2 linked regions of the Homo sapiens genome follow. The protein of the gene in region 2 purifies or fractionates together with the protein of the main gene of each other region. This does not show direct contact. Each region holds a gene or a part of one and is shown on either strand. Other genes may lie near its edges.

What was found. Proteins that work in one complex are often made in the same cells at the same time.
Region 1: the proteins of CTR9 (region 2) and IWS1 purify together in Homo sapiens (affinity purification with mass spectrometry; 2 studies listed by BioGRID and IntAct, with this or other methods). This does not show direct contact.

Annotation. Positions count from the first base shown.
Region 1 is NC_000002.12:127,519,886-127,523,638, forward strand, and holds part of IWS1 (protein IWS1 homolog), read right to left. Parts: intron 1-3,753.
Region 2 is NC_000011.10:10,749,712-10,753,464, reverse strand, and holds the start of CTR9 (RNA polymerase-associated protein CTR9 homolog), read right to left. Parts: upstream 2,220-3,753; 5' UTR 2,053-2,219; coding exon 2,008-2,052; intron 794-2,007; coding exon 695-793; intron 1-694. UniProt on the Homo sapiens protein: Component of the PAF1 complex (PAF1C) which has multiple functions during transcription by RNA polymerase II and is implicated in regulation of development and maintenance of embryonic stem cell pluripotency.

The DNA of each region.
Region 1 (3,753 bases), on a different chromosome or scaffold from region 2:
CTGCTGGTTTTGAAGATGGAGGAAGGAGCCTCAGCCAAGAAATGCAGGTAGCCACTACAAACTGAAGAAAGCAAGGAAATGTATCTTCCCTCAGAGAAGAACACAGCCCTGGGACACCTTGATTTTAGTACAGTGTGACCCATTTTGGACTTGACCTCCAGAATTATAAGATAATAATTTTTCGTTGTTTTAAGCCACCAAGTTGTATCAAGTTGTTACAGCCTCAAGAGGAAACTAGTATCTTTCAGGCTTTGGACCTGTAATTTGTACTGCCCCATTTTTTTTGTTTTGTTTTTATTTTTGAGACATAGTCTCGCTCTGTCGCCAGGCTGGAGTGCAGTGGTGTGATCTCTACTCACTGCAACCTCCACCTCCCGGGTTCAAGAGATTCTCCTGCCTCAGCCTCCTAGGTAGCTGGGACTACAGGCGCAAACCACCATGCCTGGCTAATTTTTGTATTTTTAGTAGAGACGGGGTTTCACCATGTTGGCCAGGATGGTCTCGATCTCTTGACCTCATGATCCACCCACCTCGGCCTCCCAAAGTGCTGGGATTACAGGCAAGGGCCACCACGCCCGGCCTTTGCACTGCTTCATTTAATGCAACCGTACTCTTTTAACATCCCATTACTTCTAAAAAAAAATGTTTAATGAGAAAACAAAATGTCTTCTTAAAAGCCATTTTAAACAGGCAAAAGAACATTAATACAGAACTCAACACTTATACACAGTACAACTGGCACTCTTGAAGTACTAGTGGTTTAGCAAATTACCATAACCTTCCTGGAGAGGAATTTCTATGAAGAGCCTTAAAATGTCTTAGTCTCTAATCTCGTTAATTCTCCTGGCAGCTTTCTAAGGAAACAATAAAAAATGATCACAAATGTTTATGTACAAAAATCTTCAGGGCAGCTTCAGTTATTTAATACAATAGCTAAACAGCATAAATGACAACAATTAGAAAATTGCTGAATAAGTGATGCTGCATCCATATTGTGAAACCATTAAACATTACGCTTATTGAGAATCTTTAATGACGTGGGGAAACACTTAAAAGTATCATCTTAAGTGAAGAGATAAAAAATAATACATAGGCTGGGCACAGTGGCTCACACCTGTAATTCCAGCACTTTGGGAGGCCAAGGCCGGTGGATTACAAGGTCAGGAGTTTGAGACCAGCCTGGCCAACATGGTGAAACCCTGTCTCTACTAAAAATACTAAAAATTAGGCGTGGTAGCGCACTGTAATCCCAGCTACTCTGGAGGCTGAGGCAGGAGAATTGCTTGAACCTGGGAGGCGGAGGTTGCAGTGAGCCAAGATCATGCCACTGCACTCCAGCCTGGGACAGAGTGAGACTCTGTCTCAAAATATATACATAGAAAGACACAAAATATATATAATAACATCTCAAGTAAAGTTAAAATATATAGACGTCATATACCTGGGACAGAATGAAACTGCAGGATAAATAATGTGAAAAGGCTCATAGTCATTTCTGTAGTTGGACTATGCTGGTTTTAATTTTTTTCTTTAAACTTCACAGATGCAGGAGTGCCTCAACTTATTATGGGGTTACAGCCTGATACACCCATAGTAAGCTGAAAATATAATTAAGCCAAAAACGCATTTCATACATCTAATCTACCAAACATCACAGCTTAGCCTAGCCTACCTTAGATGTGCTCCAAACACTTACAGAGGTAAGACCTACGGTTGGACAAAATCACCCAACACAAAACCTATTTTATAATAGAATGTTGAGTATCTCATGTAATTTACTGAATACAGTGAAAAAACAGAACGGTTGTATGGGTACTCAAAGTATACATACAGCACTTGCAACATCGCAAAGTTGAAAATTTTTAAGTCAAATTATAGTTTAAGTCTGGGACAGTCTGTGATTTCCAAATTTTCAAAAACAGCCACACTTATTTATTTAGAATCCATATTATAAAAAAACAAAGATGCTTAGGGTAACCTGAACTTGTAACTGCACCATGAGGCCATGAGATGACTACCCTACTGGGCTCTAAACTGACCATGATTAATCTCTGAATGCTGTTTCCAAAGAGGAAACTTAAAATATCATGCACTAAATGCACTGGCTGTAACAACATATACATTATTAAGTAACTTCCAACTATCAATTAAAATATTGGAATTTATTCTGAATGTTTAAAAGCACAGAAAAAACCTGAGTGACATCAAAATATATAAAAGATGAGCCTTTTCCACACCCGCATTTAGTTCTCTGACCTCCCCTACCCCTTAATGACCCCATTTCAGTTCCACTGGCTCCTTGAAGATATCAAGCACACTCTCACCTTGGGGTCTTTGCCAGGGATGTTCTTCCCCTAAACGTCCATATCCACACGGCTATTCCTTTGCCTCCCTTCACACCTTGGTTCAAATGTCACTTTCTTAATAAAAGACCTATATGGTCCCTATTTAACACCAAAGCCTGCCCTCCATCCTTTGTTCTAATTATCTGTTTTCTTCACAGCATTTGTTATCTTCTAGCAGACTACACAATTAAAAAAAAATGTTTATTGCTTAATGTCTTTCTCCTCCTACTGGAAAAACAAACCTAAGAAGAGAAGGATTTTAACTTCTAGTCACTGATAAGTCCAAAGCACCTGCAAAAAGTCTGACACATATTAGGTGCTCAATAAATACCTGTTGAATGTATGATATGCTAATGTTGCTGTCAAAGGACAGAGTCAATATAATCTCTAATCACACCTACTAAAAATTGGACAATTTTCTGCATATGTGTAATCAAGAAAAATATAAGGCATAGAAAGTTCTTAAATCTTTGCATCTTTATCATTCCTATTTGTTTCAGTCGTATCTACCAAAGACTTACGGCGAACTTATTGAAAAATTTCCCAATTTTATCTTGTTAACATGATGTATAAACAGAAAGGAAAATAAAGCAGTTCTGAAATATTTATGTATTAGAGCAAATACGTTAAAATGTACACAAAACCCAATACTATTACATATTATTAAACAAAAACAGCTCTTAAAATTATATTTGCAGGCCAGGTGTGGTGGCTCACGCCTGTAATCCTAGCACTTTGAGAGGCTGAGGTGGGCAGATCACTTGAGGTCAGGAGTTTGAGATCAGCCTGGCCAACATGGTGAAACCCCATCTCTACCAAGAAAACAAAAATAGCTGGACGTGGTGGCCTGTGCCTGTAGTCCCAGCTACTCGGGAGGCTATGAGGTGGGAGGATAGCTTGAGCCCAGAGGCAGAGGCTGCAGTGAGCCGAGGTCTCACCACTGTACTCCAGCCTGTGTTACAGAGTCAGACCCTGTCTCAAAAAAAAAAGCATTATTATTACATACATTATATACACCGTAACAGTTCAAAATCAGAAGGGCAAATGCTGACATAAATGTTGACAGGTGATAACCCCCATAACTTTCTATTTCAAGTGGTGTTTCTTCAGATTGCAAATGCTCAATGCCCCACTATGACATTATTGCAGAATAGGGAAACTTAGTCAAATATCAAAGGCCGGGCCCATTTTCTGAATCAATATGCACAGTTGAAAACTGCCTAACATTTGAAATGTGACCCAATCAGAACATATTTCACTGTGATTTCAACAGTAACCAGACCATCCCTATTTATTTTTCAAGCGGTTTTCTATTAACTTATGCTCCTTTACTCTCAGAGATTAAACCCTAAACTCTGTCACAGAGATTCTGTAACTCCTATAATATAACAGATCTCACAGAACGCAA
Region 2 (3,753 bases):
CAAGACAATATTAGGAGCCTCTTCTGTATGTTTGTATGAAAGCAATGTGGCATATCTACTTAGGAATAATGACTGTAACATTTATATTACCTATTCCTATAAAAAGAAAACATCATTATGCAGCTGATGCTGGCAAGTAGAGGATATAGAATTTTAGGGTTTCTGATTGGATTTTCTTGAGAATCTCCAGTAAGATTCACATTGAAGGAGACTAAATAGGACAAAAAACATAAGTCTGAGATAAACTTCACCCAAAAGAACTTTTGTGATTTTGGGTGAAGTGATTTTCCCAGAACCTAATCACATTCTAGAATATTTTAAGGGAAGTGTTTTGTTGTTATAGGAAACAATGTTAAGCAGCAATGTTCACACAGAAGCACTTCGCTTCTTTTCAGCTTATCTATAAACCATAAGCCAGCCTTCACTGAACAAGCACTAAATAATAAAATATTCAATATAGAGTACTACTTAAATGAATTTTGCCTTTACCAACATATACTAATTCACCAGTAGAGCAGCATATCATTTAGGAAAACGGCCTTATTGTTCCATAAATTATTAACACAATTAACTTCCATACACATGGTATAACTAATCTACCATGCAGCCAAGCTGGCTATTACTATATCTGAAAACAGAAACTACATATTTTCCTAGTCAACAAATAAAAAATATTTGCTACATGAATACTGACCGCCAAAGCAATCCATATGTGCAGTTGTGTGTGTTCCTGTTTCAGAATACTGATAACTTCATCTCCCTCCGGTAACTGATCGAAGTCAAGTTCAATGACCTAAAATACAAAAGGTAGGTCTTAACTCTTATTCCACTTTAAAATTCACATTTCATCTTTGCTGCTTTTCGTGAATATAATCAACATGCATATACATAGAGTACGTGTTCACTTTCAATACGGTTGAGCTAATCCATGTTAATGTTTAAGGAGCACATGACGAATAGGTTATACTATAATAAAGTTAAAGCACAGAGAAGCAAACAAACCCTGCTACTTGTCCCCAGATCACTGGAACTATAAAATACTAGAAATGGTCTGCTTACTAAAAAATAACAAAACAAAATCCTACTTAACATAGAATCCAAGTAAAGTGCAGATAAGCACCCTAGAGACTATTATGCCATAGGTCTGACTCCTTGAGATGCATGACCCTACAAGCCATGCAAAGTTGAATGCCACTGCACACATTAATCATGGAGGTGGCACCTGCGTGTAACAGACAGTCCTGACTGTAAGCACAAAAATAATAATAGGAAAATGTCCTGGAATTAGAGGTAATGACTATACAACTTTGCGAATACACTAAAAACCACTGAATTTTATACCTCAATATTATATCTCAAACAAAAAAAATAAAAATAAAAGATATACAAGAAGACTGAACATCAAAGCTGAGAGCTTTACTCAGACAAGCCACAGGCCACCCATGAATGAGACATAGGTAAGCGAGAGGAGGTTAAATTTTATCAGCACACAGGGGCGGCTAAATCTTGGGATATCTCGTTGAAGGAGAGTTGGTGTAGAGAACACAGCGCACCATGACAGACTCGAGTTTCTAAGGGAGAAGAGGCGACCTCCTATATATTCCCAGGGAAAGATCTCGAGTTTGAGCAGCAAGCATATAAACCCCGGAAACATCAGCGCCCACCTCTGTAATCTGCGAGGTGTTTTACAGTTTATCGGGTACTCTCACACCTCTGCTCCCGTGGGTTGGTTAGGAAAAGAGTAGCGCACTGTCAAATTCGAACAGGCTGGAGAGGAACTTTCAAGAACTCCTTCTCCGAGTGGCCCTGAGGCTGCAGAGACGCGGTGCCCCCAGCCTGAGAGGGCACAGGGGCTGAAGAAGATGATGATCAGACCTTGGCCAGGTATTTCGATCAGGGCTCTTAGGGAAGGAGGATGCTCTCGCTTCAGAAACGAAGTCGAGCGAAGTCGGTGGGGGCGATCGTACAAGTTCATGGCCCCCACCCGCCTCCATACACGACACTTACCTCGTCAGTGTCCCGGAGGGGAATCTCGATGGAGCCCCGCGACATGATGGGGTCAAAAGGCGAGCAAGTGTCTCGCCCCGCCGCTCCGCAGCCGGTAGTCTCCGCTTCAGGCTAATCCAGAGGTGAGTGACGGCTCCGGCTCTGGTCTTGACTGCCGCCCCGCGGCGCCGCTGGAGCTCTGGCTTCTCCTTCCCGTCAGCCGCTTAAACAACGAGCAGCGGACGGCGGACGGCCACTTCCGGCGACCCCGCCCCCTGTCCCGGAAGCACTCCCGGGGGAGCGTGCCCTACGCGAGCTCAGCTTGTGGCTCCGGTGTTTCCGTTTTGGGGTTGGCGGCTCCGAAGCTTTTGTTGGCGTGTCGGCTGTAGGGTGCCCCGAGAGCCTGCAGGACCTTCGGAACCATCTGGCGTCTGACTCTCCTCAGCGCTGGCGCGGCCCCGAATGAAAACTTGGAAGGCGTAGCCGCTTGGTCCCGCGGTGGGCGGGGCCCCTGCCTGACGTGGACCTCTCGGGATGGGCCTGGCCAATCCTGTTTTCTTCCCAAGATTGTTAGGGATAATTCAGTCATTCGTTTCGCAACCCATCTTTTGGCCCCCGTTAGGTGTAAGTCATACCTGTGATACCTTTGTGACTAGTTTAAATAAAAAAATTTACAATTAATTCGGTAATCATTGTGATAATTCATGTCTTATTTTTTTTAGTTCTTCGAAGCATGTAAGAAGATCTAGTATATTTGTGATTTAAGTAAAATTGCAGATGAGGCCAGGCGCGGTGGCTCACGCCTGTAATCCCAGCACTTTGGGAGGCCAAGGCGGGCGGATCATCTGAGGTCAGGAGTTCGAGACCAGCCTGACCAACATGGTGAAAACCCGTCTATACTAAAAATACAAAAATTAGCCCGGCGCGGTGGTGGGCGCCTGTAATCCCAGCTACCAGGGAGACTGAAACAGGAGACTCGCTTGAACCCGGGAGACGGAGGTTGCGCTGAGCCGAGATCAGCCACTGCGCTCCAGACTGGGGATCGATCGAGACTCCACCTCAAAAAAAAAAAAAAGAGGAAATTAATTTTAGTAATATATTTTATTTAACGTAATATATCCAAAATCTCATTTCAACATGTAGTCAATATAAAAATTCAGATAATTTTTACATTTTTTTATACTGAGTCTTGAAAATTCGATATGTATTTCACATGCATACACTGATCTCAGTTGCCTGATTTTAATTGGAAATATTGGATCTGTGTTTAGATTTTATAAAGTTTGCAGTTGAAAAAATAGGTTCACACACTTTAGTTTTTCCAAAATTTAAATTAAAAAAATTCCTAATTAAATTCCTTAATTGGATTAGTCATATTTCAAGTGTTCAATAGCCACATGTGGTTAGTGAATACTGCATTGGATGGCATCAGACAGTATTTCCCAGAAATACTGTTTAATATATTTTAAAGTTTATAAAGTAAGCATTAAACAAAAGTACACATAGTGGTGATTGTTATTCTCCATGCCCAAAAGCCTCCCTGATATTAAAAACTCTATTGATAGGTTTGGTTTTTCAGTTATTCGCATCCAAAGGCATCATACCTGATAATGCAGAGTGCTATGATTGAATAGTTGGGGCACTCAGTTTAGAGTGGGATTTGGAGGAAGTGACATTTAAGTTGCATCTGGGAAAATGAGTAAGGTTTGGCAGGTAAAGTATGTAGGGGAATGTGTACCAGACAGAGGGGACGGCATGTTGGGGAAG